Homo sapiens: one gene and its partners. The protein of the gene in region 1 purifies or fractionates together with the protein of each later gene. This does not show direct contact. Each region holds a gene or a part of one and is shown in the gene's direction. Other genes may lie near its edges. The genes, in order: EPN1, EPS15L1, FLT4, SMAD5, GTF3A, TMEM171 and MAP4.

The links.
Region 2: the proteins of EPN1 (region 1) and EPS15L1 purify together in Homo sapiens (affinity purification with western blotting, with the first as the bait; one study listed by BioGRID). This does not show direct contact.
Region 3: the proteins of EPN1 (region 1) and FLT4 purify together in Homo sapiens (affinity purification with western blotting, with the first as the bait; one study listed by BioGRID). This does not show direct contact.
Region 4: the proteins of EPN1 (region 1) and SMAD5 fractionate together in Homo sapiens (co-fractionation; one large-scale study listed by BioGRID). This does not show direct contact.
Region 5: the proteins of EPN1 (region 1) and GTF3A purify together in Homo sapiens (affinity purification with western blotting, with the first as the bait; one study listed by BioGRID). This does not show direct contact.
Region 6: the proteins of EPN1 (region 1) and TMEM171 purify together in Homo sapiens (co-immunoprecipitation; one large-scale study listed by IntAct). This does not show direct contact.
Region 7: the proteins of EPN1 (region 1) and MAP4 purify together in Homo sapiens (affinity purification with mass spectrometry; one large-scale study listed by BioGRID and IntAct). This does not show direct contact.

What each region holds. Positions count from the first base shown.
Region 1 is NC_000019.10:55,688,535-55,692,507, forward strand, and holds part of EPN1 (epsin-1), read left to right. Parts: intron 1-335; coding exon 336-460; intron 461-762; coding exon 763-837; intron 838-1,332; coding exon 1,333-1,416; intron 1,417-3,219; coding exon 3,220-3,523; intron 3,524-3,973. UniProt on the Homo sapiens protein: Binds to membranes enriched in phosphatidylinositol 4,5-bisphosphate (PtdIns(4,5)P2). Modifies membrane curvature and facilitates the formation of clathrin-coated invaginations. Regulates receptor-mediated endocytosis.
Region 2 is NC_000019.10:16,402,327-16,406,299, reverse strand, and holds part of EPS15L1 (epidermal growth factor receptor substrate 15-like 1), read left to right. Parts: intron 1-1,550; coding exon 1,551-1,712; intron 1,713-2,369; coding exon 2,370-2,567; intron 2,568-3,814; coding exon 3,815-3,973.
Region 3 is NC_000005.10:180,646,429-180,650,998, reverse strand, and holds the start of FLT4 (vascular endothelial growth factor receptor 3 isoform 1 precursor), read left to right. Parts: upstream 1-1,398; 5' UTR 1,399-1,453; coding exon 1,454-1,511; intron 1,512-4,570. UniProt on the Homo sapiens protein: Tyrosine-protein kinase that acts as a cell-surface receptor for VEGFC and VEGFD, and plays an essential role in adult lymphangiogenesis and in the development of the vascular network and the cardiovascular system during embryonic development.
Region 4 is NC_000005.10:136,131,166-136,135,735, forward strand, and holds the start of SMAD5 (mothers against decapentaplegic homolog 5), read left to right. Parts: upstream 1-1,679; 5' UTR 1,680-1,797; exon of another isoform or gene 1,798-3,725; intron 3,726-4,570. UniProt on the Homo sapiens protein: Transcriptional regulator that plays a role in various cellular processes including embryonic development, cell differentiation, angiogenesis and tissue homeostasis.
Region 5 is NC_000013.11:27,427,563-27,431,535, forward strand, and holds part of GTF3A (transcription factor IIIA), read left to right. Parts: intron 1-2,307; coding exon 2,308-2,404; intron 2,405-2,970; coding exon 2,971-3,059; intron 3,060-3,973.
Region 6 is NC_000005.10:73,126,890-73,130,862, forward strand, and holds part of TMEM171 (transmembrane protein 171), read left to right. Parts: intron 1-1,500; coding exon 1,501-1,642; intron 1,643-3,973.
Region 7 is NC_000003.12:48,006,235-48,010,207, reverse strand, and holds part of MAP4 (microtubule-associated protein 4), read left to right. Parts: intron 1-3,973. UniProt on the Homo sapiens protein: Non-neuronal microtubule-associated protein. Promotes microtubule assembly.

The sequences.
Region 1 (3,973 bases):
GGGACAGACCCCAGGCACGCGGAGAGTCCTGGTGGTGGCAGGGCTCAGAGGTTGCTGGGGTTCCCCACCTGCTTATCAGACTGACTTTTGCTCTGGTCCTTCCCTGATGCCTGGCCCCTCCCGTGGGTGGGGCTGCCTGCATCCCCACCCTTCCTCCTCTGAGCACCTGGCGTCTGGTCTCCGCCTCTCAGTCCTAGTCTTGGCCTGCAGAGGTTGTAGGGTGGGGGACTTGGGGGGTGGGGTTGGACACAGAAGCCCCCGTCTGTCTAGGCTATGGGGTTTCCTGTCTCTCGTTCCCTGGTCTGGGTCTCACGCGTTTCTCACCCGCCCTCCAGCCTCATCAGCAGCTGTGGGCTCAGGCCCCCCTCCCGAGGCGGAGCAGGCGTGGCCGCAGAGCAGCGGGGAGGAGGAGCTGCAGCTCCAGCTGGCCCTGGCCATGAGCAAGGAGGAGGCCGACCAGGTACTGGGCGTGCAGCTGGGGCTGTCTGTCCGCCACCCGCCTCCACGCCTCACTTCAGGCTCCCTCCCAGCCAGGCGTGGGCCTGGCCCTCACTGTCGCTGCTCCACATGCTGTCACTCGTCTCCTCCCCAGTCCTGCCTCATCCTCACCCCGCCGTCCCTCTGCGTGTCACTCTCTGCCTGTCCCTCACTGGTTCAGGGACCCCCAGCCCTCTCTTTCTTCGGCTCTATCTGACCCTGGCTCTGCCTCTGACTCTGCCTCTGGCCCCTCCCGTCATGCCCCTCACACTCTCTCTCCCCCAGCCCCCGTCCTGCGGCCCCGAGGACGACGCCCAGCTCCAGCTGGCCCTTAGTTTGAGCCGAGAAGAGCATGATAAGGTCAGAGCAGCCTCCCTGTCCCTGCCCCTGCCAGGGGCTCCCCTCAGACCAGCCCCGTCGCCCCTTCCTAAGTCACCCCCCACCATCCTGCTGGGCCCGAAGCCCACAGGCTCACGCGTGTTGAAACCTCAGTACCTTCAGCCGTAGGATGTAGGACCACAAGTCAGACAGAGCCTGGGTGGTGGCCAGCACAGCTGTGCCAAGGTTGCTCGGGTGACCAGGGTCCCTTCCTCCCCCCAACGCAGGAGATACCACCGAGGCGGGTGCCCGTCCTCCCCGGGTGCGCCAGCACAGCACCCCACTCCCCTTATCCCCTGTCCCGCCTGACCTTTGACCCAGGTGCCCCATCCCCATTTCATACATTGTCCGCATCCCATCGAATCCTTCAGCCGCTTTCGTTGGGGTGGGAGGGGTTGCTGGGGCTTCCAGGCTGAGGTGGCATCTGCCCGTGGCTCACGTTCTCATGTCTCCCTGGTCGTGCCCGTGCCCCAACAGGAGGAGCGGATCCGTCGCGGGGATGACCTGCGGCTGCAGATGGCAATCGAGGAGAGCAAGAGGGAGACTGGGGGCAAGGAGGAGGTGAGCGGGGCTTGTTCTGCCCTCCCTGGCCCCTGCAGGTGTCCGTCCGTCCCATCGCTCATTCCTGCGTGGCCAGGTCCCTGGAGCAGAGACTGAAACACAAGGTCCTGGAGCTGGGCACCGGGTTTCCAGGCTTGGTCGGCCTCTCTGTGCCTCTCCCTCCCTGCTGGGCTGAGGCCGGTGACTGACCAGGCTGCCCTGCGGCCACCTCCTGTGGTCAGCGCTGGCCATCCCCCTTCGGGCTGAGCACCGTGAGGGCCACCACCGGCCGCCACAGCTGAATGGGGAGGCCCAGAATAGGCCAACAGCCTGGCATGGCCACAGGGAGGAGGGTGCAGGGCTCGCCCCATCTGTCACACTTTGTCGGGCACCTCCTTGGTGCCAGGCCGTGTGCTGCACACCCAGGGCCTGTTGGTGAGCGAGGAGGCATGGTCCCGCCCTCGCGAACACTGTTTCTGTGGCGTCCCCATGCTCTGCAGCTGAGTAGCAAACCCTCCCACAACCTTGTGCTTCCAGGTCACGCTTCAGTACTTCCCTGTGACGGGCCCGCTGGCTGGTTGTTTCGTGTCATGGCTGAGGTCACTCATGCCTCTGGGCCCGGGGTGTCCGCACTGGCCTTGCCCTCCAGCCTCCTCCCCTGGCCTCTCCCTGGTTACTAGTCTGTCCTGAGTGTCCTCATAGCACAGTAGCTGCTGCTGCTGCCGCCCCCCAGGACAAGCTCGTCGGGCTGGGTTGGAGTTGCCTCGTCAGCCTGTGCACTGCTATTGGTCTCAGCAGGTCCTGAGGCCAGCCCAAGTTTGAGGGGTGGGGACAAGGCCTCCTCTCCATGGGAGGCGGCAGACAGCTTGTGGCCATAAGTGATCAGGCACAGTGGGACTTTCTTGGTAGACGGAAAGCCTCTTTAGGTTGGCCTCGGCCAGGGGGTCTCTATCAGTGTCCACCACAGCCCAGTGACCCGAGTAAGGGCTGCCCTGCTGGGGGAGCACCAGATCTCACCCATCTCTTCTCCTGCCCTGCCCTGGACTCAGCTCTTCTCCCCTTCCCATCCCCGCCGGGGCCTTTGCCTCACGGGTGCTGACTGGAGATGTGTGCATGAGTATGTTGGGGGCATCTGCACGTTCTGAGACGGGCTCTGGTTAGCTGGGCCCGTCGTGTGCCCACTTCCAGAACACAGGACCATGCATGCGTGTGCGTGCGGCATGGGAAGACCTGCAGTGCGATGACTGCGGGGTGACAGTGGGGCAATGGGCGTGGGAAGGCCTGCAGCGCGATGACTGCGGGGTGACGGCGGGGCAACGTAGGGGGCATCGTGAGGGGTGCTCAGGTTGACCTGAGTGGGTTCATGGGGGGCTTCCCAGGGGAAGGCATGGAGCAGGGGCTGGCCAGTCTGGCTGGAGAAGGCACGGTGGGCAGAGGGAGGATCGAGCTGCTTCGGGTCGAGCGAGGGGAGGGCTTGGCCTCCATCCTCAGTCAGGGCCGGGCAAGGACCTGGGAGCAGGTGGAGTTAAGGGGCTGCCCTGCTGCAGTGTGGAGAATGGATGTGGGGCAGGAGTGGGGCTGTGTTGGGGCTCCCTGGTGGTACCCTCGGGTGGGGTAGGTGGGCAGGGGTGGGCCGACCCCATGACGGATGAGGAGGGAGGCCAGGTGGTGTGTTTGGGGCCTGCCTCCCTCTCACCCCTTATGGATGGCTGCTGTCTGGACACCCAGGGCCTGGCCGCCTCCCCCGCCACGGGCCCCAGCTTGGTCCCTGTCCCAGGCTTCCCACCACTTCTTCATGCTCCTTCTCTTCTCTCTCCCCCACAGTCGTCCCTCATGGACCTTGCTGACGTCTTCACGGCCCCAGCTCCTGCCCCGACCACAGACCCCTGGGGGGGCCCAGCACCCATGGCTGCTGCCGTCCCCACGGCTGCCCCCACCTCGGACCCCTGGGGCGGCCCCCCTGTCCCTCCAGCTGCTGATCCCTGGGGAGGTCCAGCCCCCACGCCGGCCTCTGGGGACCCCTGGAGGCCTGCTGCCCCTGCAGGACCCTCAGTTGACCCTTGGGGTGGGACCCCAGCCCCTGCAGCTGGGGAGGGGCCCACGCCTGATCCATGGGGAAGTTCCGATGGTGAGTGCGTGGCCCACTTGCATGCAGCCCCTACGCCTGTGTGCACCTGTCTTTGGTTGACTGTGCCCTTGGACAGGGACAGATCGAGCCAGTGGCGCCGGGCAGTGGTGGGGCGTCCTGGGTGCAGGGGAGGGGGCAAGGGCGGGGGTCAGATGAGAGCCCAGCACAGGGTGTGTGAGATTGTGCCTTGGAGGACATGGGGGGTGTGCTGTGGGGAGGGGATGGCAGCTCAGCCGAGGGGCAGAGAGGCTCTGGCCAAGGCAGAGCGTGTGTGACGTAGGCATCTGGGGAGGGCGGTGGGTGGAGCTGGGAGGTGCAGGTGGAGAAGGGGCCTGACACCCAGCTGGACAGGGGAGGGGTGGCCGAGCCGTGGGAGCTGAGGGAGGGCTGGGCAGGTCTGGCAGAGGCTGCGGGGAAGCCCCTCACCCCAGCTGGGGTCCCAGGGGCAGA
Region 2 (3,973 bases), about 39 Mb from region 1:
CCCCTCCAGATCCAGCCCTCAAGTGAAAGGCCAGGGGCAGGGAGACTGGGGAACGGAGACCCCAGCTTCCTGAGGCATGATTTGCCTATCGAGGCAGGGAAGCACCAGGATGTTTTTGTCCCCATAGTGAGGAGAGGGGAGACCCTGGGCCACCTCTGGTTTTGTTATCTCAGGGCACCAGCCACCCCAGCAGCCCAGGCTGGCTCTCGGACTCAGCCCCACCACCCAGCCATGGCTCCCCGCAAACCCACCCCTCCTCTCCATTCTCACGACCACCACCTCACTCAGGCCCCAGCTGCTGCTGCCTCTCCCTGGACCCCACCCGAGGCCCCTGCAGTTCCTGCGTCCTGATGGCCCCTTGCACCACGCTCCACATGGCAGCTGGAGGGAGGAGGCTTGTCACAATGCCCGTTGTGCTATTTCAGCTTTGGTTATTTATCTTAAAGACAGATAATGCATTTGCGTGGTTGAAAATCAGGAGGTGAGAAGCCTCTGCCCTCTTCTTGGGTGTCCCCATCCCCGGAGGTGCTGTTCATGAGCTCCTGGAGGGGGCCTTCCAGAAAGGTTGATGCATACCACACATACCCTCCCCTTCCCGTTCGCACAAATGCAGTGTGCTCATGTCCCACTGTAAGGCAAAGCACACGGCGCCATCCCGTTCCATGGCCAAGGAGCGTCCCACAGTGTGGGCTGTGCTGGAACCTTCCAGCCAGCACCTCATGGACATCTGCATTGTTTACGGATTTTGCTGTCATAGACGTTGTATACCTCTGCACACGCTGTATGCTTCCAGGATGCTTTTCTTGGAAGTGGAATCATGGGGCATTGGAGCCTCGGGCTGACCATCTGGATCCATCCCACGGGGTCAGAGAGAGCTTCAGAAACAGAATCATGATGTCCCGCCTCCCACACTCACACATCCCACCGGGCTCCCCACCACAGAGCCCAGCGCAGTCTCCTTGGCGTGGCCTGTGGGGTGCAGCCTCTGATGCCTCCACCCATTCCCTTTTGCTCTAGCTGGAGTGCGACACCCCCCGACCCTGGGGTCCCTGTGGTTCCCTCCGCCAGGCTCTGTCCCTGGCTCTTCACCTGCCTGGCACCTGCTCACCTGTTGGCCCCATCCTAAATGCTGCTTTTGTGGGCATCTTCCCTGCCCACAAGGTGTGACTGTAGTTTCCCTGTGACCCCCTTGGTGCCACTTGTCCACGTTTATTTGCGTTTGGGTGATGTTCCCCTCCGCAGCCACAGCTGCATGTCATCCGGGAGCTGGGGCCTTTTTCTCACAGGGACCCAGCCCCTTCTCTCGCACCTGGCCTCTGTTAGGCCATCGGGAAATACCTGCTGAGGGAGCTGGTGAGACAGTGGCCCTGGGCCTCCAGCCCAAGAGGCACACATTGGCCGTGGGTGTGCACGGAATGCTGGCCCTGAGCACGGTCACAGTGGGTGGTTTCGGAGGCTTCCCCTGGACTTCTGGCCCAGGCTGCCCCCCGTTATCTTGGACATGCTTCATTTTTCCCATCCTCACGTAAACCCCTGCAACTCCTCCCTAGGAATTACAAAATGACCTAGACCGGGAAACAAGCAGTTTGCAGGAGCTCGAGGCTCAGAAACAGGATGCTCAAGACCGCCTGGACGAGATGGACCAGCAGAAGGCCAAGCTCCGAGACATGCTGAGCGACGTCCGGCAGAAGTGCCAGGATGAGACTCAGATGGTGGGTCCCGGCCACCTCCGGGGCAGCGCCCTATGCACAGGCAGGGGCTTCCCAAGGACTCCCCTGAGCTCGTGTTACCTGGGAACACAACACTTAGACATCCTACTGGGTCAATAGAGTTCCTCCAAACACCACGTGGAAAAGTGTCCAAGCACCTGTGGCTTGACTTCCTGGCCACCCCCCTGTACTCCTAGAAGTCAGGTTGTATAAGTGAATGGCCTTGGTCCCTGCGAACTTGTGCCCTGAACACACCCCACCTGGCTGTGCCCCACAACACAGGGAGTTCCAGGGTGCCTGTGTCCCCTCCTCAGGTGTCTCTGAGGCTCCTCACAGATCCCGGAGGCTGCAACCTCAGAAAACTCTATGACGTTCAGCCTCTGGGGGGATGGACAGATTGTTCGTGCTTGGTCATGCCCCTCATTATTCCAAAGTGATCTTCCGTTAGCCACAGTGGGATGAGCCCATCTGCCTTTTCATTTGTGTCTCTATTTTGGGTGTAGAAAGAGGCCTGTAAGGAAGCCAGGTGTCGGGCCTGGGTTAGGTGTCTGCGTCCCTGGCTTAGCTTGTTTCGGGGATGGGGGCTAAGAGTTCTTTCTCGGAGTCCCATTTCATCCTGCACTGTGAATCTCTTTAACATCTTTTAACATCTCATTTCAGATCTCATCACTGAAAACGCAAATCCAATCTCAGGAATCTGACTTAAAGTCCCAGGAAGACGATCTGAACCGAGCCAAGTCGGAGCTGAACCGATTGCAGCAGGAGGAAACCCAGCTGGAGCAGAGCATTCAGGCTGGGCGAGTCCAGCTGGAAACCATCATCAAGTCCCTGAAGTCAACGCAAGACGAAATCAACCAGGTACTTCACGGAGTCGGGTCCCTGCCACATGCCAGGGACCAGCGAGCCCCAAGAGCCGAGGCTGCCACTGCTGAACTCCTTTGCTCTCACCCTTGTTACTTACGTGAGGGTCTCTTTTGGGAGGCTGTGGTGCTGGCCTGGAGGCGCAGGGCCAAGGACTCCCCAGGGCATGTTCCAGAGTTTGTTGGCATTGGCCTGGAGGAGTTCACTTTCCTTTCCTGAGCACACAGCATCTTCAAGGAGTAGGCGGGGTGGGGTGGGAACACTTAATTAATGGCTCATTTGGAGAGAACTTGGGGTTCTTTCCAGCCTGGTCCTCACACAAACAAGAGGGACAAAGTCAGAGAGATGACTTCTTTGTCCTTGGGCAAGAGAACAGACGTCATCCTCCACAGCCACTGGTGTGTTCAGGAGGCGCCACCCTGGAGCATCACGCCATGCAGGACCCCCATTCTCTAAGCTGCCTGGGACGCCCCCACCCTCTTCCCAGTCCAGGGGGGGGCGCTGGCTTCTCGTGGCCTGCAGCCGTTGCCCTTCCCTGCTCTCCTGTGGGCAGTAGATGAAGGCCTCTGTCCTGGCCCTGGGCATCCAGTCTACACAGTGGTTGTGACACTGGCCCTCGCCTGTGTCGGAGTGGCCAGGCACACTTCTTTTACCAATTGAACTGGTCTCTGTCTGTGCTCCATTAGCCAGTTTATAGGCCACAGTTGATCGCAAGCATGGACCGCTCAGAGATTTACCACCCTTTCTTGTGCTTTATGGTTAATATCTGTAGGATTACTTTCAGTGTTTTCTCTTCTAACCCTTAGAGTTTGTAGTTGGGTGTCAGGAGCAAAGATATGTTGCTTTGCGCAGTGCAGTGCCTTACACCTGTCATCCCAGCACTTTAGGAGGCTGAGGCAAGAGGATCACTTGAGGCCAGGAGTTCAAGACCAGACTGGACAACATAGCGAGACCCCATCTCTACAAAAAATACAGAATTTTTTTTGTATTTTTTGCAGAGATGGGTCTTGGTTTGTTGCCCAAAAATATAGGTGGTGACACGCACCTGTAGTCCCAGCTACTCAGGAGGCTGAGGCAGGAGGAGCTCCTGAGGTCAGGAGCTCAAGGCTACAGTGAGCTATGATCACTCCACTACATTCCAGTCTGGGTGACAGAGTGAGACCCTGTGTTTTAAAAAAAAAAAGCGTCTTTTCTGACATGTTTTCCTGACCCTGCTTAATGCTGATGATGTCTTTGTTGCACAGGCAAGGAGCAAACTTTCCCAGCTGCATGAAAGCCGCCAGGAGGCCCACAGGAGCCTGGAGCAGTATGACCAGGTGCTCGATGGAGCCCATGGTGCCAGCCTGACCGACCTGGCCAACCTGAGCGAAGGCGTCTCCCTGGCAGAGAGGGGCAGTTTTGGA
Region 3 (4,570 bases), on another chromosome or scaffold:
ATAAAATGATAAACAAAAGCAGGGAAATGATAATGCCAGGGTAGTGGGCATCTTCTGGGGTTGGTGAGGGGTTTGTGATGGGAAGTGAGGGGATGTGGGGATGTCATTCTACATCCCTTGGCCTGGAGAATGGAAACACAGGTATTTGTTGCTTTAAAATTCAGGTTTATAATATGCTGATATATTATGTACTTTCCATAAGTGTGTTACATCTCATAATCTTTCAAAGCTAAAAAAAATCAATATATGATTGATAAATACCTAACTTCATGTATCGCTTGGTTACCTAGTTTCCCCAACCTTATTTGTTAAATTATCTACACTATCCGCACTGATTTGTGATTCCAGCTTAATAATATAGCCACTTCTTACCTGGATTGGAGAGAGCTGGTAGTGGTTATTGAAAATCTACTCTTGCTTTTTGGCGAGGATGAAAGGGCTTTGGGGGGCGGGGGTGGGGGGATGGAAAATGTGAATGAAACGAAAAGCAGGGAAGGAGGTTGAGACAGTCATGGTCATGGGCTTCATTATTAAACAGGAAAATTCTAGAGACAAACTGAAAAGAGAACGGAAGTCTGTAAGAGGGTTGCCAAGTCAGAAAGCAAAAGCAAAGTGTCGCTTTATTAAAAAGGTGGGGGCGGGTCCTGATTGAGCTGAGAACAAAACATCTGGGGGAGTTCTAAAGCTAGGAGGCCAGGCCTGCAGGGAGGGGGTCGGTCATCCCGGGTGTCCCGCTCACGGGTGCGGCTTCCGTCGACACTGTCCGTCGACACTGTGCAGGTAAACACTGCTGAACGGGTTTTGTTTTTGCTTTTTTTTTTTTTTTTTTGGCTCCCAGACTGGAGTGCAGTGGCGCGATCTCGGCTCACTGCAACCTCCTTCTCCCGGGTTCAAGCGATTCTCCTGCCTCAGCCCCCCCGAGAAGCTGGGATTACAGGCGCGCACAACCAAGCTCGGCGTATTATTTTATTTATTTGCTTGTTTATTTTTGAGACTGGGTCTCCCTATGTTACGCCGGCTGGTGCCACTATTTTCAAAGATGTAACATACTATTTTTACAAGGATTGCTTTCTTGTTTAGTCTAGATTTTACCGATGGAAAGAAAGGACGGAAAAGAGCGCGTGCCGCATTTTGCTCCCCTTTGCCCACCAGGCTCCATCACCTCCGGAGCGCATCGCGAGACCGTCTGCGTTACCCGCGTCCCCGCGCCCGGAGCCGCCCAGGAGGGGGCCCGGACCCTGTGGTGCGGAGCGCGCACTGCTCGGGTGCACCGGACGCCCCGCGGCGGGCTGGGAGGGACGGGGGGAGGGGGGCGCGGGGAGCGGCCTGAATCCCGGGCCCGCCTCCGGCCCCCGCCCCGCCCCGCCCCGCCCCAGGCCAGCCGGCGCCCGCGCGGACACTTTCAGCCCCGAGCCGCGGCCGCTCGGGTCGGACCCACGCGCAGCGGCCGGAGATGCAGCGGGGCGCCGCGCTGTGCCTGCGACTGTGGCTCTGCCTGGGACTCCTGGACGGTGAGCGCGGCGAACGGGCCACCCGCCCGAGCGTGGGGCTGGCCGGGGAGGGGGTACCGCGCACCTGGGGCGGGCGCTGAGACCGCTCCGCCGGGTACGGGCGGGGGACACGGTGGCCCTGGTGCGCGGACGCCTGAGGGGAGCACGGCGCTTGGGGCGCGGGACCTCGGGATGAGGAAGGGGCGGGCGGGGACCGCAGCCGGGTCAGGGCCAGGGCGGCCGGGCCGCGCCTCGGCGCAGGGGTAGCTCTCCCGGCCCCTGAATCCGCGTCTCCGTCGGTGGCTCCGCGTCCTCGGAGCCGGGCCCTGCCGGGCTGCGCGCTGAGCCCGGATCCTTCGCGCCCTTACTCGCTTCCCCGCGGGGTCCCCGCGCCGCGCCGTCCCGACCCACGCGCGCCGGAGATCCATCCCGGCCGGGCCCCGGACTTGGGTGCGCACTTCCCGACGCCCAGCGCCTCCGCTCGCGGTCGGTCCCCCAGAGGGCGCTCGAGGCGGGCTTCCCCCTCCCCGTGGCCGGCGACGGCGGGGACAGGGGCCGGGGACCACCGCGCGCCCGAGGCGGACGGGTGCAGGTGCACGCTGGCACTTGAGACGAATCTTGAGGAGGCGAATCGCGGGCTGTCAGCGCCGCAGAAGGGGCGGAAGGCCAGGGGTCCCCGGATTTGAGGGGACAGGGGCCTCGAAGGCCAGCTGAGGAGCAGAGGCCCCCGCGGGAGGGTCCCCTGCACAGGAGAGGCGGGGTTCGGTTTGTGTTGGGATGTGGCTCTGGCGGGGAGAGACGCAGACCTGAAGCGGAGGCGGAGGGGTTGGAAAGAGGGACTGTGGGGGATGAGCGGGCGGCAGAGGGAGTGGATGGAGATGTCAGGGAGGAAGCTGAGAAGATGAGCTGGGAGTCCCCACGGAGCTGGTGTCCCTGGAAATCAAAGGGTGTAAGGGCGGGGTCAGGGGTTCCAGTGTCTGAAGCCCTGAAGTCAGCGACGGGGACCTCAACATTTCTGCACGCCATAGGAATTAAATACTGGCTTTACATGCTTGTAATTCTCACAGGGAGTGTCAGACCCATTTTACACATGGAGAAGCTTAGACCAAGGACATGTGTCACTTCCCCAAGGTCCCCAGGAGGCCCAAAGTAAGCCTGACAAAGCCTGCCTTTGCTCACCACCTGTATGTCCACTGGCTGAAGGGCAGAGGACAGGAGAGGGGGCAGGTCTGGCTCAACCAGGGGAGGAGGGAGGAGAACATCTATCTGGGCCTCCGAGTCGGGCAGGCCAGATCAGGGCGCTGCCCTTGGCCCTCCTGGACCCAGCCCAGGACCAGGCTCCCACAGGTGCTCAGGATGTATTTGTCGAGTGGCTGGTAGACCTTGGTTGGACTGCAGGGCTGTAGAATGGGAGACGCTTATCCTGGAGGAGACATGGGACAGGCACCTGGGCGCAGTGTCTGAGCTGGGCTGAGTAGCTGGAGAGGAAGAGAGAGACCCGGGAGGGGAACCCTGGAGGAGGGGCCCAGAGGGCAAGGGGGCTTCCAGGGATCCAGGGAACATTCTGCAGGTATAAGGAGAACCAGGAGAGGCCAGTGTCCTGGTGCTCCCGGGTGGAGCACAGAGGGACGTGGGGTGAAGGGTGAGGAAGCTATTCCCTGCAGTAAGTAGTGACTCTTAGTGACCCAGTTATGAAGAGGAGAGAGGGCATTAGTTGGGCGCCCCATGGAGAGGGGTGTCCTGGGCTGGACCTGGGTTTGGCTGGTGGGGAGATGGCAATGAAGACAGAGGTCATCCCTCCGTGAGCCCTGCACCTTGCTGTACCCCCTGCTAGGCTGAAGACCCCGGGAGCCCCCAGCTTGATGGGGGATGCCATGGCGGAAGCACAAGCCCTCAGCTGCAGTCGGGTGTCAGGGCAGCTGGTCCGGTGGGAGCTGCAGTCGGGTGTCAGGGCAGCTGGTCCGGTGGGAGCAGGCCAGAAGCCTGAGCATCCTGAAGCTGACCCCTTAAAAGTGTGCTATTGATCATAGAACCAGACTCTTGTCCTGCCTCTGCCGTAAAGTCCTTTCTGTGTGACCTGGGCCCCCTCCTTTCCCCTCCCTGCACCTCAGTTTCCCCAAGCATAGCCATGGCACAAGCATAGCCATGGCACAAGCATAGCCATGGCACAAGCTGGCAAGCCCCGAGGTTGTGTGGGTTGTGTGTGCTTGGGCTGGACTCCAAGACCCAGATGCCTGCTGCAGTTCCACAGTCTTGCCCCAGTGGAGAGGGTAGGTCACAGATGTCTCTTGGGGCTTAGTCTAGAGAGAGGCCATTGGCACCTCTGCACTGTGGCTACCAGCTCAGGGACATGCAGGAGCAGGGTCTGCTGGGCATCTGGAGTGGCCTGGTCTCAGGACGTTTGCCCTTGCTGTGACCTGGGTCACAAAGGCCCAGATGTGGACAGATGTGTGGCCCAGGGATGCAAGTCACTGCAGGCAGGATGTGGGGATCAGGCCCACTTTACTTGGGCCTGGGGACCTTCTGCTCCAGCTCAGGGCTCTGAGGACTCGAATGCAGGTGCTGTTCCCTCATCCACCAGGCCTATGGCACAGAGCCAGTGTGGCTGAAGGAGTCCTGAGCCCTCCCAGAGCATAGGGCCCACATGGCTGGGCCCAGACAGGGTACGAGGTGTGATGTGTGGTCTGTCTGGCGAATTCTTCACTGTAACCCCCAGCAGTGGCACCCCGACCCAGGGAAGGAGCCTGCAGTTCTATGCAAGACCCCAGCATAGTGCCTGTTCGGGGTGGCCCAGGGAGGACTTGGACCTGGCCCCATCGCACAGGGGTTTCCTGTGCCTTGCAGGGACACAGACATGCCATCAGACGTGTATTGCCCAGGGATGAAAGTGTTCAGGGGCCCTGGTGAGGCCCAGCTGGTGGCTGTAAGCTGCACAGGAAGGCAGTGTCACTTCCAGCTAAGGGCTTCCTGGTGGGGTCTGCAGAACTCCAGGACAGGGAATTCCAAGCAGAGCAAAGAACCCCATGAAGCCCCAGAGACAGGCAAGTCCAGATGGTGAATGTGGCCAAGTGGGTGGTCCG
Region 4 (4,570 bases), on another chromosome or scaffold:
GTGTGACAAAGAGTTAAAGTACACAGACTTTACTTTCTCAAAGTTTATGATGTAGTAAAGAAGTTTAAGATGGAGACCTGAAATTGCAAACTGGTGGCCAGTAGGCTAAATCGGGACCATGGATTTGTTTTGTTTGGCTTGCATGTAGTTGGCCTCCAGAATGTCTAACAGAGTGAGAGGAAGGGAGCGGGGTGGGGGGCGGGCAGGAGACAGGCAAAGAGAGAGAAAAATAGAAAGAAGTTGCTAAACAGATATAATTGAGATTTTCACATAAAAATCTAAATTTCCAGCTTTGCTTGAAAAATCAGAATATCTGCCAACACTGGGTCCTTATTCCCACATTTCCCTATGGTAACAGTTGGCTGGAATGAAATAGCAGTGACCCCTTTGGTCTCTGGAACTAGACACTCACTCTCTGGTCTCTTCCCCCACTTCCCCTTCACTCCTTTACTAGCCCTCTGTCACCATTTCAGATGGCCACCCCTAATGCAGAGACTTCTGGACATTTATTTAGTTTCTTCTCCACAGAAATAAACTTCTAGAGCCTGGAGCAAAATAGTGGCTGCGCCATTTGTGTGTCAGATGAGATGACCCTGGCTCGGGCCATGGAGGTGGCAATTGAGGTGTGAGAAATGGTCAGATTTAGGATAAATTTTGAAGAAAGAGTCAGTAGAATTTCTGATGGATTGGATTAGGGTGTCAAAGAGCATTCCAAAATGACCCCGATTTTGATTTTTACTTATTTTAAAAAGAAAACCTATAATAGAACATTGGAGAGCCAGTATTGACCTTTTCAAATAAAAACAAAATTATTCAAAAGCTTTTTCTTACTAGTACTATTCAAATCGGGTACCCTATGTGGTACCAATATTATATTCTAGGAAATACTGACGGTTTTGGAAATTTGGAGGAAAAAGCATCGAGAAGAGCTCCAATTACTTAGAAAAGAGAGTCCAGGAGATGGGGTGGTGTATATAAGCCTATGGATGGTGTCTCTGCAACTCAGTGGCCCCGCCTGTCCAGGGGCTGGGTCCCCACGGGATCTCCCTCCCCACAAGGAGGTGGAGAGGCTATGTGTCTTGAACAACTGGGGTTGCGATCCAGTGTATGGGCAGTCCCACTCCTGGAACTCCAGGGTGGGCACTCGCTCCATTTCCACAGGCCCTCAAGGGTTCCAGGATTGCCCCGTGGGAGGGGTTTTAGTGCTGCATCTAGTAAGAAGCTGTAAGATGCTCAGAAACATGTTTTGAAGCTACTTTGCACAGAAAGAAGACTCTTCATTCAGATTTGTATTACAGATCAATAAAAGTAGCTAAGTCGTATCTGAAGATGTTTTTGTTTACACTTTGTATGTGACAGAAAACCTCCAGTTGTCTGTGTCAAGGACAATTACTTAATTTTATTACAATGTATACTGATTTGGTTAGTGGAAGCTTCTAGCGCCTACTGTGGTGGTGGTGGGAGCTATCTGATTCCCATTCCCAGGCCTGGCCATCGACGCGAAGGCCTCCAGCTGATCGGAAGTCGGCGTTGGCCGGCGCGGAGCCCGGCGCGGAGGCTTCTTTCAGCCGCCCGGGCAAGACACCCCTCCCTCGGTCCCGCAGCGGTCACTCCGCCTCTGGCGCGCATGCGCCGACCCCAGCGGGCGTCCTCCCGGGCTCCCTCTCCCTCCCTCCCTCATCCGGGTCCTGGGCGAGCGGGCGCCGTGCGCGTGTCCCGCGGCCGAGCTGCTAATAAAGTTGCAGCGAGGAGAAGCGCAGCGACGGCGTCGGGAGAGCGCGCCTAGCCGGCTCGCGAGTGAGTGAGGGTCCCCGGCGCGCGCGGGCGAGGGGAACTGGGGGCTGCAGGCTCTGCCCCGGCGGACTCGGGCCGAGGCGGGGGCGTTCGGCCGCGGACGGAGCGGAAACGACCCAGGGCCTGTCGGGCGGGAGGTAGGCCGAGTCCTGGCCTGCCGGGGTCCCGGCTGGCGGACACGGTGCGGCCCAGCGGCTGCGGAGGCCTCGCTGGCTGCCCGGGGCGTCCTGAGGCGGGGCCGGGGCTGGCCCTCGTCCCAGCCCCGCTGTTACCGCCCAGACTTTGGAGGGAGGCGTCTGGGACGCCCTGGAGGGGACCCCCTGACCCCGCGCTGTCCTGGGGAGCGGTTTGCTTTCCTAACTCATCGGATGTACCACCCTGGATACACACCCTTGATAGGACTGCGGTGCTCGGCCGGGCAGCCTGGGCTGCTGCACTGCGAAGCTGTCCAATGGCTTGATGAATCCGTGCCGCCGTCGCTTTGTGTTTCAAAGATAAGGATCCGCGCTTATCGGTGGGAATTACACTCTGGGCAGTTGTGACCGGCTACTGCAATCAGCTGGTAGTTAGACCTGGTTTCTGCCACTTGCCATGTCAGTTTTCACCACTGCAAGGATTTCTTCTACTTCATGTAAACTTCTCTGTGCTGCAAAGAGAATGCCAAAGCAGCGTCTTTTTGCCTTCACCATATTCAGCCGCTGGCCGGGTCCTATACTTCAATATCAGGGCTCAAATTAATATTCCAGTCTCTTCCCCTCCCCTTTTCCCCTCTCCTCCTTTCAGCTGCTGTTACTACGTGGAGTTTGGAGCCTAAGCTTTGAAAACTCCCATGTGGCGCGCCCGTCTTAAGTCTGAGCATGCTCAGTAGCCAAAACAGATTTTTGGTTGCAGAACTCGGGCGAGGATACTTGGGGTATTTGGACGTTTGCCGGCTTCCCAACAGAATGTTCCGGTTCTGGTGGTGATGGCATTGGAGAATGGGGCTTAGGCAAGCCTGTAGGTGAGGAATGGCTGAACACCCTGAGCCAGATGTTTATCTTGATTGTAAAGACAATGTTTCCTGACCAGCTGGAGCTTTGGGGGGGGGGGGGGGGTGTTGCGGGGGGAGGGAGCAATTTTGGTTGCTTGTGCATTTAAATGGGTGTGGCGCTAAGTATATCTTGTTTACCTTATCTTTCTGTGGAAAAGTTTTGATGTCTAGGTTTGTCACATCATGCCTGTTGCCTAGCACTACCAAAAGGGTTGTTATCTAGCAGCAAAGATTGAATAGGTGGAGGTCGTGGCTTGGCCTCACAGAAGTTGAGAGGAAAGGGTACTTGGGTTGCGTTTTTGAAAATTCGTATTTAAAACTAGAGTACTTGAATTTCCTTAGAGTACCTGAATTGCCCAGAGTGAATTAGTTTTTAATTTTAATTTGAAAGACAAAAGATTGAAAACCTTAGTCCCAGTAGGTTTAGTAACATTCCAAATAGCTTACAATTTCTGCTAGATGCCAATGCAGTAGTATCCATTGTGGGGAAAACAGTACCTACATTCAGTGTGACAGTTTCACATTTATGGATCCAAATATCATTATGAAATTAGTGTTCCAAATTTAAGGAGCTATTTGCAGATGTATAACAAATTATTTTAGTCTTTTATTCCTTTGGTAACTATTAATATTTTTTTCTCTACAGTGAAAATTGTAAAAATGCAAAACTTAGACAATTTAACAAAACTTAACCTTCATAAAGGTTGTAGATACTATGTTTAGATTTATAAAGTTTAATTTTGATGATTATTTGTGTGATTGTTCCTATACAGCTTCCTTTCCTTCCCTTTCCACATTGTTGCTCCCTCAGTCTTTTTTACATTACTGCTGTTAATTTACCCATGTATCTTTGTTAAAAATACCTTATTCATCATTTTGTGCTTCCATTCCTTTCAGATCATAGCTGAAATAAGCAAGAAAAGTTAGATTAACCTTCTCAACTGACTTTACTCTCAGGTTTTAAAGGCATCCACATGATATGGTCTAGTTAAAAGGAGGAAGAGAGCAGCAAACTGGAAAAAAAGAATAAAATATTTTCGTAGGTTCTGTACAGATCTGGTAGTATTATCTGCGTGTCTGGTTCACTGTGGTAGGCGCCACAGAAATGGGTAGATTGATAATGTGTTGGATTTCTTTCCCCTCTGGCAAAGTCAGCTATTAATTTCAGTGGGAGACAGTGGCAGAATGTTGTTACTAATGAGGTTTGAATCAGATTGTTGTTTACTGTTGGTTATGTAACATGTTGCTGGGAGTATTATTAAAAGTTGCATTCTGCAGCAAAGTAGAGGCAAGTAAATTCTGCTTACCCTCTTCACTGGGTTTTAATTCTTGGCTGAACCTGAAGGCACATTAGATTACAACCATAATTATACCTGGGCAGCCTGTCTGTTTCCTGTTTTCATCATGAACCCAAACATTATGATTTGCAGTGATGATCTTTTTTGTCCTTTGCATTGAACGGAGGCAGTGTGTTTTCTCCCTCTACTGAAAACAGATTTGTAACTTGGTCAAATTAAAGATTTTAGTGTTTTGAAAACTAGGCAGTAAAATACCAGTTTTTCATTTCTTAATACAGTTACTTAAGTTGAAATACCATCTAAAAAAATCTATTTCATATATATTCTTTGTCTTTATGTAAATTTTAATATTACTAGTACTTTGTAGAGTTAAAGAAACTCTTTTTGTTTATGACATATCAGTGTTTATTATTACCAGATGTATATGTTGGTCTAGGCAATGAGCCAC
Region 5 (3,973 bases), on another chromosome or scaffold:
GATGCTCTCTGCAAAGCCATGAGAAAATCACCAGGGCACTTTAATTGAAAAACCAAGGTGCAGAAGAGTCCTCTTTAGGCTACTTTTATGTGTGTAAAAAAGCTAGGGGGTAGGGGGAGGGGTGAGTAGTGGGTGTTGGGTAGGCAGGAAGCAACTATATTTGTATTTGTTCCTATTTGTAAAGAAGTCTTAAAAGTTACATAACAAAACTAAAAATGTCATCTGTTTTGGGAGCAGTGGGGGATCCTGGCCAAGTAGGGGGTGGGGATGGTAGGAAATGCCATGCAACCAGGAACTACTGGACATGACTCTTCCAGCTCATGATCTAACCCAGACCCTGCCCCTCTTTAGCTGTAGTTCCCCGTTTCCCACTGCTCGCTGGACAGTGCTACTTGGCTATCTCTGTGTCTTCTTAAATTCCATGTGGTAGGCTGGGTGTGGTGGCTCATGCCTGTAATCCCAGCACTTTGAGAGGCTGAGGTGGGAGGATTGCTTTGAGGCCAGGAGTTCAGGCTGGGCAAGATGGTCAGGTCCATCTCTATTAAAGAAATAAATAAATAAAAAATTCCACATGGCCCAAATTTGTCACAGTCAAACTGAGCTCACTTTTCTGTTTGATCTTCTCTCATGTTCTTGTCTGGAGAGGTGGCCTCGCTGTCTGTCCAGTGACCCATAGCAAAGATAAGGCAGCTCCCTGGACTCTCCATTCTTTCTCCCATCCCTTGCAACAGGTGGGTTGCCAGATCCTGTAACTGACCCATCAGATCCAGCAGCCACTGTCTTATCTCGGTCCCTTCCTCTGGCTGGAATGACAGTTTGCAGGCCAGCCCTCTCCCCCAGTGCCCTCCCGTGTGCTTCCCTTAAAGCTGTGCAGTGCTTTCAAGCACGGCCTACATGTGAAATCCAGGTTTCAAGTGTGTCCTACAATGACCTGCGTGATTTAGCCCTTTTCTGCTTATCTTGCCCCATTTGCTTGACTTGCAGGCATGAAGCTGTGGTCCAGCTGTGCTAACTAACCAGCCCCCTCTCCAAGTGTGCCGGGGTCTCTCACGCCCACTTGGGTCTTGTCAGGACTCTTCCTGGCCTGTCCTCCTATCCCATACCCGGTTGGGTTAGATGCCTGTGTCAGGTTTAGAGTGAAGAATGGCAGGAACCCCAGCACAAGAGATGCTTAAACAAGATGGGCTCTTTGTCTTGTGCGACTGAAATACAGAAATACAGAGGCAGGAGCTCTGGAGCCTCTTCTGACTGGTCTCTGCCATCCTCATCTTGGGCTTTAACCTCACTGTGATGCCTGTTTGGGCCCATCTGTCACATAAGCATGCCACTGGCAGGAAGGAGGAAAGGGCATAAGAGGCATGCCCCCTTATTTAGAGACTTTGTGGGGGTTGAGCAGGATGGGCTGGACTCAGCCATGAGCCGCCCTAATTGCAGGGGAGGCCGGAGAGTGCACTTTCTGTCGGCCACCTGCCCAGCTAACACTCAGCATTCTGTCCCTGCAGTTAGGGGGGCTTCTAGGGTCTCTGCCACAGCGCCCCTCCCATTTGTGGGCCTCTGTGCTGTGCCTCCCATGGTCACTGCTGGCTTGTTTGTCTCTGCTTGGCCCTAGGAATGGGACAGTGCCTGCCTCAGGGTTATCAGTGAGTGATGGCTAAGATTGAGCCTGGGAAAGGAAGTCCTGCTTCATCCCTCAAGCTTACGAAGGCTCATCACAAGAGGCACAAATTTTCTTTTGGGAAAAAAAAAAAAAAAAAAGGAAAAGGCTTTGCAGAGGATTTAGATCATTCAAAGCCAAGATGCCAAGATAAGGGGAACCAGAATGGCTTGGTAAGCCAGAGAACATAATGGTTATGGTTCTGCTCTAAGTATCTGTTTTACCTCTAATGATAAGCCAAGACAAGTTTTATGGAGGCCTTTCTGGAAATCCAGTTCATAATGACATCTCAAGCAGCATTAAGGTTGTCAGATTCTAAGCTGAGAATAATTTGTCTTAAGCATGATTTAGGCCTAGTGTAGGCTTTTGGGACTAGTGTATTTCACCTTCCCATCTGCCCAGTGTGTATAAAAGATGACTGATGTAGTGTGTATAATTTCAGAAGCCTAATATGAAAAAGCATTTTGTTACATGATAGTCATCAGGTTGAGAGTCTATGTGGTATGGCTTAACACTCTGGAATTCGCTAAGACTATTTTATAGTATTACTATTCTTTGGAAGAATTAGCTTCTATAAAGTAGGAAGATATATGTGTCTTAAAACTTCTTCTCCCTTGGTTTATTAATATTTTGGTTTATATAACTTCTTACAGTTGTGCAGCCAATGGCTGTGATCAAAAATTCAACACAAAATCAAACTTGAAGAAACATTTTGAACGCAAACATGAAAATCAACAAAAACAATATATAGTAAGTATGATTTTATATGCTTAAATTTTTTGAGTATTTTTACACTTACTGCCTATGTTTCTGACATTTTCAGCCAGGTGCGGTGGCTCAAGCCTATAATCGTAGCTTGAGGCCAGGAATTTGAGACCAGCCTGGGAAACATAGTGAAATGCTGTCTCTGAAAAAAAAAAACAAAAACAGAAAACAAAACAAAAAATTTTGGGGTAACAGAGACCCTGTCTCTAAAAAATAAAAGTGAAAAATAAAGTTTTCGTCAACCAAATTTTGTCTGCCAAATGTCTGAATTTACTTAATGCCATCATAATGATAAAGGTTTTAATTTGGAAGCAGACATTGTGCAAATTAGTGTATTGGGAGACTATTCCAACTGAAACAGTTTTGCTTTTTCAAATGTTATATGATTCTTCAAACCTTTTTGAGATAAAGCAGAATTTTACAGTAACAAAATGGGTGAAAGCAGAAATTTTATACAGTCTCCAAAATTGTTTTATCTTGAGGATTCTGTTACGAACTGTTCATTTTGTTTTGACTTTCCATAAGACTAACGAGCCTTTACAATTTAACAGTGCAGTTTTGAAGACTGTAAGAAGACCTTTAAGAAACATCAGCAGCTGAAAATCCATCAGTGCCAGCATACCAATGAACCTCTATTCAAGTAGGTACTTCATGTGGCTGAAAATGCCTGGATTCTAGGTGTGAATAAGATTGGAAATGCAAGGGTGGTGTTGAGCATTGTTTCATGTTTTTTGGCCATTTGTATATCTTCTGAGAAATGTCTGTTCATATCCTTTGCCCACTTTTCGATGGATTGTTTTTTTCTTGCTGATCTGAGTTCCCTGTAGATCCTGGATATACATTCTTTATTGGATGCATAATGTGCCAGTATTTTCTCCCACTCTCTGGGTTGTCTGTTTACTCTGCTGATTATTTCTTTTGCTGTGCAGAAGCTTTTTAGTTTAATTAGGTCCCATTTATTTATTTCTATTTTTGTTGCATTTGCTTTCAGGGCCTTAGTAAGAATTCTTTGCCTAGGCTGATGTCCAGAAGTTTTTCCAATGTTTTCATTTTGAATTTTTAGTTTCAGGTCATAAACTTAATTTGAGTTGATTTTTGTATAAGGTGAGAGATAGGGATCCAGTTTTTCCAGCACCATTTATTGAATAGGGAGTCCTTTCCCCAGTTTACGTTTTTATATGCTTTGTTGAAGATCGGGTGGCTGTAAGTATTTGGCTTTATTTCTGTTTTGTTCCATTGGTCTAAGTGCCTATTTTTAAACCAGTGCCACCCTGTTTTGGTAACTGTAGCCTCGTAGTATAATCTGAAGTCTGGTCAAAGGAAAAGAAGTCACTATATGAAAAAGACACATGCACACACGTTTACAGCAGCACAGTTCACAATTGCAAATACATGGAGCCAATTTAAGTGCCCATCGACCAATGAGTAGATAAAGAAAACGTGATGTATATACACCATGGAATACTACACAGCCATAAAAGGGAACAAAATGATGTCTTTTGCAGCAGCTTGGATGGAGCTGGAGGCCATTATTCTCAGTGAAGTAACTCAGGA
Region 6 (3,973 bases), on another chromosome or scaffold:
ACTGTTCTGGTCCACTTGTGTGGTGCATTTTATATTGGAATCGGAATACAAATTAGAGTTTGCATCTGGTCCCTAGTTTCTCCTCAAAACATGAGGATGTATTCTGGAGTGAACAGTAGCCACAGAAATGCAAAAACCAAACTTCTTTGGGTTCAACCTTCATCTGTATGGGTGAAATTTTGGTAAATAACAGTTAGGGGCTGTAATATGGCTTACTGTCATTTGCTCAGGGGCTGAAACTACATTTGAGGAACAAGGCACTTTAGCCAACAGCTAACTTGTGAATTAAAGTTGTAGGCTGAAAACGAGAAAAGCTTTTTCAGCAGTAGACACCCCAGAGGAGGGAAAGGAGCTTGTTAGCAAACAATTCACAAAAAGGCTTGGTCTTAGACTTGCTACAAAATATAGACCTGCTTTCATACCATAATTGTCAGCACTCTGGATTCTGAAATGTAGGCCTACTTTTAAAAAATTTGTGGTAAAAAAAAAAAAAAAATATATATATATATATATATATAAAGCATAAACAATTTAAACTGCTTTTTGTTTCGTTTTGTTTTGTTTTGAAACAGAATCTCACTCTGTCACCCAGGCTGGAGTGCAGTGGCATGATCCTGGCTCACCACAACCTCTGCCTCCCGGGTTCAAGCAATTCTCCTGCCTCAGCCTCCCGAATAGCTGGGATTACAGGCGCCTGCCACCACGCCTGCCTGATTGTTTTTTCTTTGTATTTTTAGTAGAGACAGGGTTTCGCCGTGTTGGCCAGGCTGGTCTTGAACTCCTGACCTCAAGTGATCCACCCGCTTCGGCCTTCCAAAATGCTGGGATTACAGGCGTGAGCCACCACGCCTGGCTTTTTTTTTTTTTTTAAGACAGGGTCTTGCTCTGTCACCCAGGCTGGAGTGCAGTGGTACAATCATAGTTCACTGCAGCCTAGAACTCCTGGGCTCAAGCAGTCCTCCTATCTCAGCCTTCCGAGTAGCTGGGACTGCAGGCGTGTACTCCCACATCTGGCTAAATTTTTTCTTTTAATTTTTTTGAGATGAGATAGCGCTGTGTTGCCCAGGCTGGTCTCCAACTCCTGGGCTCAAGCGATCCTTCCTCCTCAGCTTCCCGAAGTGGTGGGATTATAGGTGTGAGCCACTGCACCCAGCCAAACCGTTTTTAAATGGTTTAGTGGCATTGAATACAGTCACAATGTTGTTCAACCATTATCATCATCAATTTCTGGAACTCTTCCATTATCCCCAACAGCAACTCTGTACTCACCAAACAGCAATTCCCACTCCCTTCCTCCTCCCGAACCCCTCCTAGCCCCTGGTAACCTAGTCTACTTTTCTATCTCTATACATTTAATGGGCTTACTTTTAAATTTTGGAGTTAGCAGCAGGTGTGTTGACCTTTTATATAGATGGGCCAAATATATAATTAATTTTGCTTTTGCTAATTTGCTTCCATTTATTACCCACCTGTTGTCAACTAAATATTGTTTTGCCTTAGGTGACTCGGTAATAATATTTCCACCCCCTCCACCACCTTACTTTCCTGAATCTTCAGCTTCTGCGGTCGCTGAGAGTCCTGGAACTAACAGTCTGCTTCCGAATGAAAACCCCCCTTCATATTACAGTATTTTCAACTATGGGTAAGAATTTCAATTTGAACTTCAAGAGAGGCCTGAATTCAGGCCACACTAGTATTAAGGCTGTGTGGTTCACCAGGAGGCATTCAAGTGTGAGTATCTTTTTTGCTGATGTTATGTCAGAATTAGTGTCTTGATATTAACAGTACCTTTGCCGAAATTTGGGCAGCACATAAGTTAAAAATGATAAAGTGATCATGCTGGGTTAATATGAAGCCTACTCCAGGCATCTATCTTTATGTGCTCCTAACAGGGGTGATACTCAGAATGTTTAACAACCCTTGCCGGGTGCTGTGGCTCACACCTGTAATCCCAGCATTTTGAGAGGCCAAGGTGAGTGGATCACTTGAGCTTAGGAGTTTGAGACCAGCCTGGCCAACGTGGCAAAACCCTGTCTCTACGAAAAATAGAAGAATTAGCTGGGGATGGTGGTAGGCACCTGTAATCCTAGCTACTCGGGAGGCTGAGGCATGAGGATCGATTGAACGCAAGAGACAGAGGTTGCAGTGAGCCTGTTACCGGCGGAGGGTGTCCACGTACTTTGTGTTTTGAACAAAGAACTGGACAAAATGCACAAACGAAGCAAGGAAAGAATGAAGCAACAAAAGCAAAATTTTATTGAAAATGGAAGTACACTCCACAGGGTGGGAGCAAGCCTGAACAGCTGCTCAAGGGCCCAGTTCCAGAATCTTCTTGGGTCCAAATCACCCCTAGAGGTTTCCCATTGGCCACTTTGTGTTCACCTCATGTAAATGAAGTGGTGGCCCACAATCCGTCTGATTGGTTGCAGAAAGCAGCCAATCAGAGGCTGAAGTGAAGTTACAAAGTTGTTGTCCTATGCAAATGTCTGATTGGTTGCAAAAAGCAACCAATTAGAGGCACTTTCAATTTCCCATCTGCCGAAAGGTGGGTGTTTGCAAAGGGAGTAGTCTTTGGTCCTTTTGTTACTCAGGGGTGGAAAGTTAGGGTTTTCCTTTCAATTTAGTTCTAGGAAGTCAGCGTGAAACGGCCGTAGATTCCCTGCCTCCACACCCTATTCTTCTGCTCCAAGCCGAGATCGCGCCACTGCACTCCAGCCTGGGCAACAGAGAGAGACTCTATCTCAGGGGGAAAAAAAAGAATGTTTAATGACCCACCAATCAGACTGAGCACCAGGACTGGGCCAGGAGGCCCCTGCTATGCTAGGCTTCACTGCTTTAGATCATGGAGAGGTGTGAGGGTCTCAGGGGATCCCCAACAGTTACAGAAGGGCTTTAGTACTCTGATGGCCGTGCTTGGGTGACTGGCTAAAGTCAGCCTGAGCCCCGATCCAACACAACTGGGCCTCTCCTTCAATATTCGCTCCTTCCCTGGGCCGCAGAGAATATCAGGTCAATACCCACCCCACACAGAATGCAGCGAGGCAGGCTCTAGTGGGACGGGCCTGAGGTGCCAGGAGCCTGGGGGAGGGGGTCTGGATGGAGAATGACATTGAGGAAGAGGCGAAGATGATGAGTTCCAGGGTGAGTGACAGGGAAGCTCAGAGGTCCCCAACTGAGAAGACGTGAGTGATGAGCTTGGTTTCGGTGGGGAAAGGATGGTGGGCGGCTGATGGTGGCGGTACAGTGAGATGAGGGCCTTGGAGGCAGACTGGGAAGGGCTGGGTTTTGGGAGAGAGAGGAGGTGATGGAGATGGAGCTGCAGAGGTTGTTGGAGAACCAGAAGGGCAAAGAGTCAGGGACTAGTGGGAGACCCCCAGGAGGGGCTTGTGCATACCCCAGAAATGGTGTGCTCAGGGAGCAGGGCTGGAGAAGGCTCTGGTGGTACCTTCTAGAATGGGAAACCAGGGTTTAGGAAGGGAAGGAAGAATTGCTTCACATTGTCACAGGGTGAAGCAGGTAAGACAATGAGATATGTGCATTTTTGCATGCAGTGAGCAGCAGGCACAGAGAGACTGGTGCTCATTGCTGGGGATAGCACCACCTTACCTTGTTATTCGTGTTTAAGGAACTCCCTCTCCACCCTGCCTTGACAGAGCAGGCAGTGGGCCTTGGAGCAGGGGCCAGGGTGCCTTTTCTCTGGGGCCTGGAGGGAATGAAGTTGTGTAGAGATTCTTTTCCCACAAAAGCAGGGGGACAGGTTATCTGATGGGAGAGGGAAAGAGGTGGCTGACAAGGACAGAATTGGCTTTACAGCTTCATATGGGGTCGTGATGGGGGGATCCAGGGAGGTGCATGTGGGAACGGCCCTGCATGGAGAAAGGGCAGGCTAGGGCTGGACCTCTGTAGAATTCTCATCGTGAATGTTTGTATTTTTTTTCTTCTAATGATAAACTTCCCCAAACCCTAAAATCAG
Region 7 (3,973 bases), on another chromosome or scaffold:
AGGTCATGGGTTTTTTTCCTGGTGGAGTGATCCAAACCTTCATTCCTGAATGGTCCGGATCATTTGTAGTCCTGCCTGGATTTGGCTGTTGTGGTTTTGCATTGACAGTAATCACAGGGCATGGTAATACGAAGAGATGCCCTAATGGGTCTCATGTATTCCATGCATACTCTTCCTTACTTCCGTTGTGAAGTTGTAGACTGATTTCATCTTGATAGTCTGGGTCAGTCACCTTAGCCAACACTGTAACTCCCCCTCTGAGCCTGTTGACTTAAAGGGAGGAGGAGCCCAAAGTGTCCAGGTGACAATCTTAACTTCCAGTTTAATGGAATCATTGTTGTGTCTCCTGGTGGCAGCATTCTTCCCTCTGGAATTAAGACCTCTAGGCCAGCAGAACATAATGTTGCAGGAGAGGAAGCAAAAATTTTGCTAGTGGATCACTAGGGGTGATGGTGAGTGGTGCCACTTCCAGTTCCACCCCTCGATTCCTGGACCTGTGAATCCTGGCTATGGGAGAAACAGTACCTTATATTGGACGCTGATTCAGAGGATACACGGCCTTCTGGAGGACTTTCCCACAGTTCTGCAAAGTATTGTCACCTAGTTGGCGTTGTAATTGTGACTTCAATAGGCCATTCCACTGTTCTGTCAATCCAGCTGCTTTAGGATGATGGAGAGCATGGTAAGACCAGTGAATTCCATGAGCATGAGCCTACTGCCGCACTTCTTTAGCTGTAAAGTGAGTGCCTTGGTCAGAGGCAATGCTGCGTGGCATACCATGATGGTGGATAAGGCATTCCATGAGTCAGCTGGGTGCGGTGGCTCACGCCTGTAATCCCAGCACTTTGGGAGGCCGAGGCAGGCAGATCACTTGAAGTCAGGAGTTCAAGACCAGCCTGGCCAACATGGTGAAACCCTGTCTCTACTGAAAATACAAAAATTAGCTGGGTGTGGTGGCGGGTGCCTGTAATCCTAGCTACTTGGGAGGCGGAGGCAGGAGAATCACTTGAACCCGGGAGGCGGATGTTGCAATGAGCCAAGATTGTGCCACTGCACTCCAGCCTGGGCAACAGAGTGAGACCCCTTCTCAAAACAACAACAACAACAACAACAACAAACCAAAAAAACATTCCACAAATGGTAGTCTTGGTAGAAGCATTGCATACAGGATAGGCGAACCCATATCCAGAGTAAGTGTCTATTTGAGTGAGGACAATCCTCTGCCCTTTCCATGATGGAAGAGGTCCAATATAATCAATCCGCCACCAGGTAGCTGGCTGATCACCCAAGGAATGGTGACATACTGAGGGCTTGGTGTCGGTCTCTGCTGCTGGCAAATTAGGCACTCAGCAGTGGCCGTAGCCAGGTCAGCCTTGGTGAGTGGAAGTCCATGTTGCTGAGCCCAAGCATTACTTCCATCCCTGCCACCATGGCCACTTTGTTGGCCATGGGCGATGGCAGGGGAAAGAGGCTGAGTGGTGTCCACAAAATGGGTCATCCTATCCACTAGATTATTAAACCCCTCCTCCGCTGAGGTCACTTGTTGGTGAGCACTCACATGGGATACAAATATCTTGTCTTTGACCACTCAGAGAGGTCCATCCACATACCTCTTCCCCAAATTTGTCACCAAGTTTCCAATCATGCTCCTTCCAAGTCCCTGACCAGCCAAACCATTGGCTACAGCCCATGAATGAGTATATAATCACACATCTGGCCATTTCTCCTTCCATTCAAAGTGCACAACCAGGTGCACTGCTCGAAGTTCTGCCCACTGGGAAGATTTCCCTTCATTGTTGTCCTTCAGGGATGTCCTAGAAAGGGGTTGTAGTGCTGCAGCTCTCCACTTTCGGGTGTTGTCTGCATATGATGCAGAACCGTCTGTGAAGCAGGCCCTAATCTTCTTTTCCTCTGTCAGCTGATCATAGGGAACTCCCCATGAGGCCATCAGTGCAGGCTGGGAGAGAGAAGGCAGGGTGGCAGGAGTGGAGGCCATGGGCATTTGAGCCACTTCCTCATGTAATTTACTTGTGCCTTCAGGACGTGCTTGAGCCCGATCACGTATATACCACTTCCATTTGATGATGGAATGCTGCTGTGCACAATCCACTGTATGGCTAGATGGGTCTGAAAGCACCCAGCTCATGATAGGCAGGGCAGTTCAGGTCGCATGGTGACTTGATGACCCATAGTCAAACATTCAATTTCCACTAAAGCCCAGTAACAGGCCAAGAGCTGACTCTCAAAAGGAGAGTAGTTAGCTGTAATCAGCACTTTGGGAGGCTGAGGTGGGCGGATCACAAGGTCAAGAGATCGAGACCATCCTGGCCAACATGGTGAAACCCCATCTTTACTAAAAATACAAAAATTAGCTGGATGTGGTGGCACGCACCTGTATTCCCAGCTACTTGGGAGGCTGAGGCAGGAGAATCGCTTGAACCTGGGAGGTGGAGGTTGCATTGAGCCGAGATCGCACCACTGCACTCCAGTTTGGCAACAGAGTGACACTGCGTCTCAAAAAAAAAAAAAAAGGAGAGTAGTTATCTGTAGAAGATGGCAGGGCCTTGCTCCAAAATCCTAGAAGTCTCCATTGCGATTCACCTATGGGAGCCTGCCAAAGACTCCAAACAACATCCCCATCTGCCACTGACACATTAAGCACCATTGGATCTGCTGGGTCATATGGCCCAGGTGGCAGAGCAGCTTGCACAGCAGCCTGGACCTGTTGCAGAGCCTTCTCCTGTTCTGGACCCCACTCAAAACTGGCAGCCTTTCAGGTCACTCAGTAAATGGGCCGGAGTAATACACCCAAATGAGGAACGTGTTGCTTCCAAAATCCAAATATGCCCACTAGGCATTGTGCCTCTTTCTTGGTTGTGGGAGAGACCAAACACAACAACTTATCCTTTAACTTAAAGGGAATATCTCAACAGGTCCCACAACACTAGATCCCTAGAAATTTTACTGAGACAGAAGGTCCCTGAATTTTAGTCGGATTTATTTCTCATCCTCTGGCATGCAAATGTCACACCAATAAGTCCAGTGTGTTTGCTATTTCTTGATCACTGGATCCAGTCAGCATAATGTCATCAATGTAATGGACCAGTGTGATATCTTGCGGAAGCGAAAAGCGATCAAGATCTCTCCAAATAAGATTATGACACAAAGCCGGAGAGTTGATATACCCCTGAGGTAGGACAGTAAAGGTATATTGCTGGCCTTGCCAGCTGAAGGCAGATTGCTTCTGATGGGCCTTATGGACAGGAATAGAGAAAAAGGCATTTGCAGAGTCAGTGGCTGCATAGCAGGTACCAGGAGATGTGTTAATTTGCTCAAGCAATGAAACCACATCTGGTAACAGCAGCAGCAATTGGAGTCACCACTTGGTTAAGCTTATGATAATCCACTATCATTCTCCAGGATCCATCTGTCTTCTGCACAGGCCAAATGAGAGAGTTAATGGGGATGTGGTGGGAATCACCACTTCTGCATCTTTCAAGTCCTTGATGGTGGCACTGATCTCTGCATACCTTCCAGGGATGTGATATTGTTTTTGATTTACTATTTTTTTAGGTAGAGGCAACTCTAAGGGCTTCTATTTGGCCTTTCCCACCATGATAGCCCTCAACCTAGCAGTCAGGGAGCCAGTGTGGGGGTTTTGCCAGCTGCTAAGTATGTCTATGCCAATTATGCATTCTGGCACTGGGGTAATGACCACAGGATGAGTCCAGGGACCCACTGGGCCCACTGTAAGTCAGACCTAAGCTAAAACTTCATTAATTACCTGACTTCCATGAGCCCCTAGTTTAACTGGAAGACCACAGTGATGTTTTAAGTCCCCTGGAGTCATCATCAGCCCAGAGCCAGTGTCCAGTAGTCCCCAAAGTGAAAGGTTGGATGGAGGTCTCCTTGGGGAAGGATGGGAGAAAGATTCACTGCATAAATTGTCAGTAAAGTAGTGGGGTCCTTTCTC